Linked DNA regions of Homo sapiens: regions 2, 3 and 4 are each reported to be linked to region 1. The links are microRNA targets in miRTarBase. Many come from high-throughput screens and were not tested one by one. Region 1 holds a microRNA gene; each other region holds the end of a gene's coding sequence.

What was found. The annotated mature microRNA hsa-miR-513b-5p reads UUCACAAGGAGGUGUCAUUUAU and lies in region 1 at 2,068-2,089, opposite strand. An mRNA with a match to its seed (bases 2 to 7 or 8) in the 3' UTR can be bound and repressed. Matches are read on the target gene's strand: a 7mer-m8 pairs with bases 2 to 8, a 7mer-A1 pairs with bases 2 to 7 and ends in A, and an 8mer does both.
Region 2: miRTarBase lists CD101 as a target of hsa-miR-513b-5p. Seed matches in the 3' UTR shown: 7mer-m8 at 511-517.
Region 3: miRTarBase lists ZNF555 as a target of hsa-miR-513b-5p. Seed matches in the 3' UTR shown: 7mer-m8 at 1,996-2,002, 7mer-A1 at 1,989-1,995, 7mer-m8 at 1,964-1,970 and 7mer-A1 at 1,739-1,745.
Region 4: miRTarBase lists CCDC81 as a target of hsa-miR-513b-5p. Seed matches in the 3' UTR shown: 7mer-A1 at 274-280.

The regions. Positions count from the first base shown.
Region 1 is chrX:147,197,026-147,200,174 of GRCh38, forward strand. It overlaps MIR513B (microRNA 513b), which reads right to left and starts at 2,102; the gene lies at 2,019-2,102. The region is part of intron 1 of LOC105373347 (periphilin-1); the gene reads left to right.
Region 2 is chr1:117,033,874-117,037,022 of GRCh38, reverse strand. It overlaps CD101 (CD101 molecule), which reads right to left. Exons shown (of 10, transcript NM_001256106.3): 9 at 2,889-3,149; 10 at 471-855. The coding sequence ends at 2,922. All of the region lies in intron 2 of CD101-AS1 (CD101 antisense RNA 1), which reads left to right. Among named protein-coding and RNA genes, the nearest start is that of CD101-AS1, 24 kb to the left of the region's middle.
Region 3 is chr19:2,853,257-2,856,405 of GRCh38, reverse strand. It overlaps ZNF555 (zinc finger protein 555), which reads right to left. Exons shown (of 4, transcript NM_152791.5): 4 at 1-3,149. The coding sequence ends at 2,454. Among named protein-coding and RNA genes, the nearest start is that of ZNF556, 13 kb to the left of the region's middle.
Region 4 is chr11:86,422,506-86,425,654 of GRCh38, forward strand. It overlaps CCDC81 (coiled-coil domain containing 81), which reads left to right. Exons shown (of 15, transcript NM_001156474.2): 15 at 69-601. The coding sequence ends at 210. Among named protein-coding and RNA genes, the nearest start is that of CCDC81, 49 kb to the left of the region's middle.

The sequences.
Region 1 (3,149 bases):
AGTTGTTTCCAACAACACAAATTTATTATATTAGGGTCTAAAGGTCAGAAATCTAAATTAGGTTTCTCTTGGCTAAAATGAAGGCATTGGCAGGGCTTTGTTCCTTCTGTTGGCTCTAGAGGAGAATCTACTTGATTGTCTTTAGAAGAAGATGCTACTTGCTTTCTCCGTTCTTTGGCTCATGGACTTTACCTCCACCTCTAGTCAATACTATAGCCTTTTCCAATGTTTCTCTTATTCTAACCGCCTTTCTCCTACTTATAAGGACCCTTGTGATAATGTTGGGCTCACCTAGATAATCTAGGATAATCCCAATCTCAAAATATTTAATTTAATCACATGCACAAATTTTCTTCTGCAATAAAATGTGTTGTTTACAAGTTCAGGGGTTACTCTGTAAACATTGTTTTGAGGGGGCTGTTATTCTGCCTACCACAGAGATCTTGTAATTTTTTTCTTAGAATTTCACCTAAATATTTTATGTTCATATTATTTTATTTTTCAATTAGCTTGATTTAATCATTTCCTAATGTACACATATATCAAAACATCATGGTGTATACCTTAAATATATACAACTTTTATGTCAGTTAAACCTTAATAAATTGGTAGAAACATGGATGAATAATACAAAACAGAATTTCTCTGAAAGAAAACATAAATACCAGTGAATATACTATTCTTTTTGAGTAAATCATAAAAGAGATACGATAACAACTAAATTTTCTTACTTTCATTTTAGGATATCACTTAAAGTTATATAAGTAACATGCTTTCACTATAATACAGTTTTAGAAACTATATACTAAGAGGAGTTATCACTTTGGAAAATTCTACGTACATACAGTATTTCAAACTGACAGAATTTTTTTACTGTTCAGAATGTTCCCCCCGACCCACACACACATACAAAGATTCTTTGTATTCTATTAGTGCAATTGTTTCATTATGGAAAAGATACATCAACAGATTTTTTTTTTTACTTTCAGTTACTAATGGTCTTACACATATTCATCCATTCTGAATCTAAAAAAAAAAACATAAACTAAAATCCTCCCTGTAACCATATAGTAATTTTTTAACAGTTTTTCCCTTTCAGTGTATATGCTGTAGCCTCTATTTCAGTTGGAATCAAAATTGTATTAATCACTTACTATTTCTAAAACATTTTTTACACATTTCCACAATATAAGTAGCTTATTTATAACCTACTTCCCAAACATGCATACTGGTTTCATGCTGCAGAAGGCATCACACAGTCTGGCGCTTGTCTCTCTCTCTCCCTCTCCCTCCTTTTCTCTCTCTCTCTCTGTGTGTGTGTGTGTGTGTGTGTGTATTTATTTCCCTCTCTCTCTCTCTCCATTGGGTTAAAAGTTAAGAAGTGTCACCAGAAGAAAATGGAGAGAGAAGCCTGGGAGACATCTCCTGAGTATCAGTTCTGTCACACCCTTTCATTCTTCAAGTGTATTCTTAAAAAATGGGGAAAAAGATAATGAAAAAGAATGAAATATTCTTGGATGGACTATGCTTAACCCATTGTAAACTGGTGACATATAGCTTTGAAAGGTAATTTAAAAGTCAATGAAAAACATTTTAGTCTTTGAGAGACAAATGGACACTGTGGATCAACAATGAAGGGACCTGAGAGGCAGGAGAGTCTTTTGGGAGCTCTAAAGGAGAAGCCTTGCAAATGATGACTAGTTGACAAGAGAGAAAAGTTTAGAGAATTTAGGAATCTGGAGTACAACCTTCCAGCTGACGAAGAATGGCTGTGGCCTCTATACAATGTATTTCTTATTTGAGCCAAGCCTCATTTGGCAAAAATAGTTAAATTCTTAAAGAACTTGAGTGCATGCGTTTTCTCAGGAGTCCACAGTTCCTATGTCTAGTCGTCTAGAAGGCACAAAAAGTTCCTTGAAGTAGCCCAGCACTGAGGAGTGGGTGCACAGGATCCAAAACAGGCATCACCATGCTCGCAGCTACAGCCCCATCCCTAGGGACACCACATATGCAGTGCATGCTGTACATTACTCCTCTCAAAAAGGTGACATTTATATTTTAGTTCACATAAATGACACCTCCTTGTGAAAGGCACTGTACACTGAATGGCTGAATGTGGCATCCCAGACCAAATGCTCCCTATTCATGCCATTTTTATTCAAGTCCCTATATAGGTGTATACATTAGCATGGCCACCAAGATTTATGCCAAGGAATTATGCAAATCCTAGCCCCCAGTGCTCCCCTTTCATCCTGCCCTGAGTGAGATTTTAACATGCAGATTTTTGTTTTATTTTGTTATAATCCCAGCCACCCAGGAGCTGAGGCAGGAGTACACCTTGACCCTGGGAGTCAGGTTTCAGTGAGAGGAGATCAGGCCACTATACTCAAGCCTGGGTTACAGAGTGAGACCCTGTCTCAAAACAAAAACAAAATGTAATAGAAAAAAAAAAAAAAAAAAAAACATAAAATTACTGGTTAAGTAGAAAGGACCAACCACTCACCAAAGCTTTCTGTTGTCCTAAACTCCAGCTGTGCTGCACACACCTAAAGTCCATCAGAAAAACCACAGAATACAACAACCTGGATGCAAAGAAGTGGAGAAGAGTCAGAGGGTAACAGGTTGGAGAGAGTAGAAATTTCATTTCTTCTTCAGGCTATGGAGCAGGAAGAACCCATAGAAATTAATACAAGATACACACAAGACAGATAATGGGCTGGAAGACAGGAAATGCTATTTTATTTCTCTTAGCTCCATGGTTCTTTATAGTTCATTTATTTGAGTGCCTGCTCACTCGCTCTGTGTGTGTGTGTGTGTGTGTGTGTGTGTTATTAAATAGTAATAGCTGTAAGATTTTTAGTTCTAAGATTCTTTGCATTAATATATTTTCCATCCTTTTACTTTTACCCAACTTTCACGTAGGTCTTCATATTTAAAATGGCTTTGTTTTAGAAAGTATATAGTTGTTTCTTATTTTTATATAAATTGACAATCTCTGTCTTAATAGAAGCATTTATATCATTTATATTAATACAATTATTTACATACATGCATTTAAATCTACTGGCTTTCTGATTGTTTTCTATGTTTCATCCTTTTCTTATTCCAAATTTTCCTCTTTTCTGCCTGATGGTGGATTTAGTATTTTT
Region 2 (3,149 bases), not on the chromosome of region 1:
AGCTCTCCACTAAGTTTCAAAAACCAAAGGTAAACAGTATGTAATTGGAGAGAGAAGAGGTTTCACATAAAATGTCTGCTGAACTGGATCAGGGCAAATTTTATTCTGTAAATTTAAAAAGAAGAAAATACTGTGGGGGTGTTTTAGTTTTGGAGGATTTTAGTTGCCTATGGGACAAAGAGTGCCATGTGGCTGCTTAGACTATCAAAGGTGCTCTAAGTCCCATTAATGAAAGCAGAGCATCCAGGACAAACAAGGTGAGCATCCCAGGGGCATGGGGCTGTGTCTGAGTCACCACAGGGCCCCTTGCTCCTAGCACAGGGCCTGACATGCAGCAGGTACCCACTGGGAACTCACACTTCCCATGCTGTGCTCTGGCCGGAACCGTTTCATATTTGAGGGTCTCTGTTCCCTGAAAAAAACCAGCGTTTGTTTGCCTGGCGAGTAACAAATAACTCTCCACAAGAACATGAGTTTTGATGAAAAGGAGTTTTTTTTTTTTTTTACTTGTCACAAGCAAGGAGAGCGCTGGGAATACTCTCCAAAGCGGTGTCTCTGAAGGAAAGTGACAGGAGGGTTTTATGGGGTGATGGAGAGGGGAGAGAGTGCATTGGTGCATGTAGGGGAGGGGTCCCAGTGGCGCAGCCGCAGTGAGTCGTCCTGCCAGCACACAGGTCACATGTTACGGTCATGAAGCTATAGCTCCCCCTGGGGTAGTGACTTCAGGATGGTAATGAGGAAAGTTCACTTGGGTTCATCTAGAAGTTGCCGGGGTCTGTCAGGAGCTGGTTCCAGGTGACTAGGTCACCACATTCCACACGGGGCTTGGGAAGAAACAGGCAGCAAGGCAGGAAGCTGTAAAACAAGCTGATTGCTCAAGTTGGTTAAATGTCTGCTTTCCCAGGAGACCCTCCCTGTCTGCTTACATCTCCTCTGTGCTATCTCTGTGCTGGATTCAAAAGGGGAAGAGGTGTTTGAGCTAGAAGCTTGAAGGAGGTGTCCATGTGAGCAGAGAGGAGGGATGGGGTGAAGAGTGCTCCCACAGAGGGCTGCAGCAGAGTCCATCCAAGATTCTCTGCCCAGGCTCACTTCTGCTCTCTTTCCCTTTGAATTAAAATACAGGTTTCTAAAAAATAGGGGCAGGGGGTCATCACACTTTCTAAGAGTCTTCTGCCGGGCGTGGTGGCTCACGCCTGTAATCCCAGCACTTTGGGAGGCCGAGGCGGGTGGATCATGAAGTCAGGAGATCGAGACCATCCTGGCTAACACGGTGAAACCCCGTCTCTACTAAAAATACAAAAAAAAATTAGCCAGGCATGGTGGCGGGTGCCTGTAGTCCCAGCTACTTGGGAGGCTGAGGCAGGAGGATGGCGTGAACCCGGGAGGCGGAGCTTGCAGTGAGCCCAGGTCACACCACTGCACTCCAGCCCGGGCGACAGAGCGAGACTTCATCTCAAAAAAAAAAAAAAAAAAGTCTTCATTTCAGCTTTGTTGTTTGTAAAAATATGCTCCCTTACCTGGATGACAAGAAACAAATGTGCTGACATGTTTAAGGAAAGATTTGGAGTATTTTAAATCAGGCTATGAAGGGACATGAGTTTAAGGAACTGGTAGGTCCATAGTAGGAGTGCTCATAGCCACCAATAATCCCCTTAGGAAGGAACTAATTATGTTTGGAGAGGACGTGTGTGCCTGATCAAATAATTAAAACTAAATTGCTCTCCTTGGAAATGCAAATTAACGAGTGTTAAAGCAACTCGGTTGGTCACATAGATAATAAATAGATGTGTTTTCTCAAGTCTTTAGGTGGCACTGATTGATTTCCAATTCTGGCTACAACAGGGCCTGAGCGGCTTTTGAAACAAAGATGAGGGGACTGTAGGCCCAGTGGGGACAGCTGTTGAAAGCTTTAAGCCATTACACCCCACCCCCACCGGCTGCTTTTTGCTACTGAGAATAGGAGACCTTGAGGAACCAGACTTGACCTACTGCTGCCCCAAACCCCAGCCCTGCAGGCGTATGAGGGAACGGTGGCACTGTCAACCCTGCTCCTCCAGACAATACCTTCCCTACCACCCAGTGCTGTCAGGTCAAAGAAAATAAGGCACTGGCTGAGCACCAGGAGCCAGATGGACCTTTTGGTGGGGATATGGAGGTGTAGGGGGAAGCAGGGGTACGAGGCCTTGGGGGGCTGACTGGAGTACTGTTACATGAGTTTTTACAAAGTTTTTGCTCAGCAATTACTTAATAAAAAGTCTTATCAAACAATAAACAAAAAGCCCCAAACTCAGGTTACAAATGTTTTATCATTTTGTCAAAGAACCTGTATTAGTTAAGCACCTTTACACAGAACTTGCTCTTGAGTGGGCCTTTGTAGGTGGGCTGGGAGAAGAAAATTGAATTTCTGCCTCGAAGGAAGTTACATTCTTGTTGTGGGGACAGATTTTAGGTAAACAAAGAGCATGTTACCAATTCCTTTTTCCTTGCTGGCATCAGGTCCTTTCCTACACCTCTCATCTGGAGGAAAATGATTACCTAGAGCAGGTGTGACAAGTGACATAAGAGGGAGAGAGAAGCCCCACCAGGGCATTGCTGTAGGATCTCATTTAGCCCTCCAGAGGCTGTGTGAGGGAGCCTCTTATCTCCTTGCAGCCCAGGGACCTGAACCTTCAAGAGATGTAGGGTAATGATGCTATCTTGTTCCAAGGGGGGATGCGAGAGGTGGATGAGGTAAGACACAAAGGAACACCTAACAGTGCGTAGAACCAATAAGCACTCAGTGAATGCTCCCTCTGATTCCTAGGTAACTTGCCCAAGGCCGCAGACATAGTTGAGGACAGAACCAGGATTCATTCACACCCTGGTTAGCCCAATTAAAAAGCCCCCACCTTTCCTTCCTGGCTGCAGGTGCCTCTTGGGATTCAGTTGCCTTCATCTTCCTCCTCGTCTTCCCTCCTATTTGTGGTCACACCTCCAGCCTCTTTCAAGTCCACCCAGAGAGCTTTTTCTTTCCGTGTGTTGGAACGCAGTGTTGACAACTTCCTGGCCTTCCAGTATAAGCAGAGGAGGGAGATGAGCAGAAGGAGGAGCAGGACGAAGGGACAGATGAACAGGAAATAGAGTAAAGGGGCCGAGGAGCAGATCCTGGA
Region 3 (3,149 bases), not on the chromosome of region 1:
TGGTGAAACCCCATCTCTACCAAAAATAAAAAAATTAGCTGGGTGTGGTGGTGCATGCCTGTAATCCCAACTACTCGGGAGGCTGAGGCAGGAGAATCAACTGAACCTGGGAGATGAAGGTTGCAGTGAGCTAAGGTCGTGCCACTGCACTCCAGCCTGGGTGACAGAGCGAGACTCTGTCTCAAAAAAAAAAAATCATTTTAATGGCAAATGTTAAGTATACAGCAATTAAAAATAACATTTATATGAAAAAATACCTGTATTTGTATATACTTGGTAATACTGATTCAAAATGTAACATGCTTAAATTATCAAAATTACAAAGTTGATTTGAAATCTGTAATTCTCTCGGTAAACAAAAAATAACATTTCTTAGTGTTATGGGTTGAATTGGGTCTCCTAAAATTTTTACGTTGAAATCTTAATTCGCGGTGCCTCAGTATGCGAAAAGAGAGCTGTTGCCAATGTAATTAGTTAAGGTAAAATCATACTGAAGTAGAGTGGGGCCTAACCCAATGAGTGGTGTGTATGTATAAAAATATTGTCACATGGAGAGACACACACACAGGGAGAATGCCATGTGAAAATTAGAGTTATGCTGCCACAAGCTAAGGAACTACCAGAAGCTAGGTGAGTTCTGAAACAGATCCTTCCCTAGCATCTTCAGAAAAAGCATGGTCCTGCCAATGCCTTGTTTCTGGATTTCTGGGTCCAGAACTGAGAAACAAAAAGTTTGTTTTCCTATGTCACCCAGTTTTTGTACTTTGTTATGGCAGCCCTGGGAAATTAATATAGTCTCTAAACAACTAATTTGAAAGCACAGTAAATAGGATTTTTTTTTCTTTTCTTGCTTGTGTGATGGAGTCTTTCCCCGTCTCCCAGGCTGGAGTGCAGTGGTGTGATCTTGGCTCACTGCAACCTCCGCCTCCTAGGTTCAAGCACTTCTCCTGTCTCAGCCTCCCAAGTAGCTGGGGTTACAGGTACTCACCACCATGCCTGGCTAATTTTTGTGTTTTTAGTAGAGACAGGGTTTCACCATGTTAACCAGGCTGGTCTCAAACTCCTGACCTCAAGCCTCCCAAAGTGCAGGGATTACAGGCATGAGCTACTGTGCCCAGCTAAACAGGATATTTCTAAGAAATATCTACAGAAGGTTTTCCTTGAAACAAAATCCACATTATTTTTAATGATACATAATCAAACCTAATAATTTAACCTATATCAAGAAACTGCATTTAGTTCTGAGTAACAGAAATCTCCCTAAATCTAATATATGAGGAAGGTATTTGTTCTCACATAGGACTCGGCAGGCACACTTAAAAATGCAATAGGGTACAAAGTCCCATGTGTTGTTTTTCTTCTTTGACTGCAACACTGTGGCTTTCGTGGTGGAATCAGGATCACAGAGCCACTGGAAGTATTAAGATAACAAGGTGTTCACTATATAAATTAGACCCCATGCAAATATGTTAAGATCTACAGAACGGGAGAATCAGAAGCTCAGAGACTGCCAAACAAGACAGTCTGAATCAGTGGTCAAGAGGTCATGCAGGGTTTTGAGAAAAATCCAGACTCTAGGTGACTGACCACACAGGAATATCCCTAATATCAAGTTAATGGAGATGTCTGAGGAAGACTACACCTCTGACACAGTGGAAATCAAGCACTTAAGTGTTTCTTTTGATGGTACTCTTGATTGGCAGGAATAAGAATCTGGAAAATAAGCTGAAGGTTGATGTTCACAAAGCCCCTATGCATCTGTCCATCTCCATTTAATGTGACCCCAAAAGCTCAGCGATGACTTACTTCTTCTTCATTCTAAATTTCATTCAAGTTATTGCTATTGGTAAATTTGGACATGGAACCATAAAGGAAATGCATTCCAGCAAATGAAGTTCCTAACACTACCCACACTGACAACAATGCAGAAGAACTATCTGCAACTCTGGATTTCTCCGTCACATCACAAGTCAAAGCCTACTGTCCAATTCACAATCACAAGCAAAGACAAACAGCAATGGGCAAACATTAAAAATTACAATTCATTTGAGGCTATACTCCTTAAACAACTTTGCATAATTACAAAATTCTGCCAACTACTTCTTAAAAAATGGAATAAGGCTCCTCTGGCCAAACAATAAAAATACTCCCAGTAAAAAAGGTGGAAAATATAATAGATACGTAATATCCAATACCTGTCACACTAAGTCAGTTACAATTTAAGAAATTAAATAAAACTTGAACCTACTTGCATATTAAAAATACACTTCAAATCATCCATGAGTCCAAAACACTCTAAGATGAAAGTTTTATTTACTGAATCGTAAGAAACTACCTGTTCAAATTCATGTAGGATAGCTGAGAGTATTTGGAGAATTATTTTTCAACTAAATGTTTATTTGCAAATGAACTACAGACACACTCCTTGAGTGTCCACTTTCAGGATAAGGAACTCATAAAGGCAACACCATATTTACAACTTTGATCAGATCTCTCTCCTGGTGTGACTTTTCTGAAGCACTGCACATGAATTCATTTGCAGGAGGATGTCCTACATTACACTTATACTGTTTTTCTGTAGTGTGTATTCTCACATGTCGCCTTAAGGATGAGGAACAATTGAATGCTTTCCCACAATGCTTACATTGATAAGGTTTCTCTCCAGTGTGCAGTCTCATATGTATTGGTAAAGATGATGGCCATTTGAAGACCTTCCCACATTCCTTACATTCATAGGGCTTCTCTACAGTGTGCGTTCTCACATGTTGTTGCAAAAGTTCAGGCCAACTGAAAGCTTTCCCACACTGCTTGCATTTATAGAGTTTCTCTGCGGTATGTCTTCTCATATGTTTTTGTAAGGATATGTGGCAATAGAAAGCTTTCCCACATAGCTTGCATTCATAGGATTTGTCTTCAGGGTGCATTCTCACATGTTCTCGAAAGCAAGCAGACAAGCTGAAGGCTTTCCCACACTGCTTACATTCATAGGGTTTCTCTCTAGTATGTGTTCTCATATGTTTTCGTAAAGATATGGGCCAATTGAAAGTTTTCCCACATTGCTTGCACTCATAGGGTTTCTCTCCAGTGTGCACCCTCATGTGTCCTCGAAAGGAGGAGGGGTGACTGAATGCTTTCCCGCACTGGTTGCA
Region 4 (3,149 bases), not on the chromosome of region 1:
CAGCTTCCAAGTTGGGCCTCCAGGAACTCCAGGAACCTGCTGATCGGCATTTGCTCTCCTCTCCTCAGGGCTTCAGACAAGCTGTTTCTCCTAGACCAGTGTGAGAAGTATCGGCGCTGCAAGCAATGCCAGAGGCGCACCTCCAACGTGGGCGAGAGCAACCTGTGGCCCCTGAACAAGTTCCTGCCTGGCTCCCGGTTGCTTGTGTAAAACTCAAAGTTTGGCTCTTCGTTTCCCGGGGAAAGTTTTTATCTTTTACATGTTTGGGGGTGATTGTGAAACTGCGTATTTTTACCTCAGAGAAAAAAATCATTGTTTAGGTTTGGTGCTTTCATTAGATTGCTTGTTAAGCCCTTATTGAATTCACTCCTGCTTTCCTCCCACCCCCAATTATTTCCTATACTAGTTTCTGATGGCAGTGAAGGTGTCTGAATGGTCCTGAGGGCTAGAACCTGCTGCACAGGGGCTGGGAATGGGATCCAGCTTCATTATGGCTGCTGGGGTGCTGCTGACCCAGCCCTGCTGCTGCTCCATGACTTTGTGTACAAAACTTTTTTCATCTGTAATGAATAGTGGCAATAATAAATATTTTTTAAGCGCCTGACTGTGCATGACAATTCATAATGGTACATTTTACCCCTCCCTCTTCCCCCAGTCCTAGACTTTTCCAGAGGGGTATATGTGTGAATATCACAGAGATGGGTTAGACTATTTACCCCCAGGAGGCCAGAACAATGCTCCCTGAGTTTTCTCATTGATGACATACCTGGGACTTTAGTGGGCCTTCCCAAGATATCATTCCCTTGTCCAGCTATTTCTACACCCTTGGAGTAACTGTGCACTGTGAGGTGAGTCTCCCACTACTTCACTTGCATTCATTCTTAAGCTGTAGGTGCTGTTCAAGAGGACTTAACTCCCTGTCAGAGGACTGACTTTCAGTTAAGGTATGGCTGTTCTCAACTAAAAACTTTCTTCGTTTATCTTCATACTTTTGTAATGCCCAACCTTGTTTTTACTAACCCTGTTTTTAGACTCTCCCTTTTCCTTTAATCACCTAGCCTTGTTTCCACGTGAATTGACTCTCCCTTAGCTAAGAGAGCCAGACAGACTCTATCTTGGCTCTTTCACTGGCAGCCCCTTCCTGAAGGACTTAACTTGTGCAAGCTGCACATCCAAGAATGCAATTAACTGATAAGATACTGTGGCGAGCAATATCCACAATTCCCAGGAATTCGTCTGACTGATAACGCCCAAAGCCCTGAGTCTATCACCTTGTAATAGTCTTAAAGCCCCTGCACCTGGAACTGTTTACTTTCCTGTAACCATTTATCCTTTTAGCTTTTTGCCTACTTTATTTCTGTAAAATTGTTTTAACTAGACCCCCTTCCCCTTTCTAAACCAAAGTATAAAAGAAAATCTAGCCCCTTCTTCGGGGCTGAGAGAACTTTGAGCGTTAGCCGTCTCTTGGCCACTGGCTAAATAAACCGACTCTTAATTTGTCTCAAAGTGTGGCGTTTTCTCTAACTTGCTCAGGTACAACACTTTCTTCTCCTCTCCCTGCCCTGTCTGACCAATTGAAGTAAAACAGAGTGAAGTCTAGATTTCTGAAATACAAAAGCTAAGAAGGATGTCTTTTAGACTATTTGCTTTCTGCCCGCCACATCTCTCCCTTGGGAAATAAGGGAAAGTTTTTGTGGGAAGATGTTTGTGAACATTTAAACTTTCATTTTGCCCTACAAATACAAAATAGGAATGTGTTGAGCCCTGAATAATTGTGGAGAAAATATTCACTCAAGCTGATATTGGGCAAATTTTGTTGCTAATGTTATCTTTTTCTATGAAAACAAGCATACCTGCTGATGATCACAATTTTTTGGAACGTCTTCCCTAATCTTTCTCCGTTTCTGCCTTTCATTTCCTCAAAAAATCATTCTATGGAGGGCCAATCATCATTAACCAATATTTAAAACAATAGGCTTTCCCCAAGACTGCCTGACCTGCCTGAATCTATATCTGCTGCACCCTTGAAGTAATTTGTTTCTAATATATAATAAATTACTATAATAGTGTTGTACTAATATATTTTAAAAATATAGAATGCTGGCCGGGTGCAGTGGCACATGCCTGTAATCCCAGCACTTTGGGAGGCCGAGGCGGGTGGATCAAATCTTTTGACGAGGTCAAAAGATTGAGACCATCCTGGCCAACATGGTGAAACCCTGTCTCTACTAAAAATACAAAAATTAGCTGGGTGTGGTGGCACGCGCCTGTAGTCCCAGCTACTCAGGAGGCTGAGGCAGGAGAATTGCTTGAACCTGAGAGGTGGACATTGCAGTGAACCGAGATCGTGCCACTGTACTGCAGCCTGGTGACAGAGCGAGACTCTGTCTCAAAAAAAAAAAAGAATTCCTTGTTAAAGAAAAAAAAGTTAATTTTGGTATGTTCAGGTGAGCAGATTTAACTTCATAGACCTTTTCACTGGAGGAATTGAACTTACAATTTACTGTCATAGGTAGCAGTCAGTACTACAGTCAGACCCTTTAAAAACTATTTTTAAAAATTATATATTGACAAATTATTTGTAATATTTATGTTGTATATATTTATGGGGTATAAAGTGATATTGTGATTTTTGAATACAATGTGGAATAATTAAATCAAGTGAATTAAAATGTCCATCACCTTATTTAACTTTTTGTGATAAGAATATTTAAAATTTATTCTTTTAGTGATATTGACATGTACAGTGCTCATTATATTCACCACACTGTGCAACAGATCTCAAAAATATATCAAAGTTGGCTTGGCGTGGTGGCTCATGCCTGTAATCCCAGCACTTTCGGAGGCCGAGGCAGGCAGATCACCTGAGGTGAGGAGTTCGAGACGAGCCTAGCCAACATGGTGAAACTCTGTCTCTACTAAAAATACAAAAAATTAGCTGGGCGTTGTGGCATGCACCTGTAGTCCCAGCTACTCAAGAAGCTGAGGCAGGAAAATCACTTGAATCCAGGAGGCAGAGGTTGCAGTGAGCTGAGATCATGTCACCACACTCCAACCTGAGTGACAGAGCCAGACTCTGTCTCAAAAAAAAAAAAATCAAACTTTTTTTTCCTGAGGCTTTGTACAATTCAACTATCATCTCGTCATTC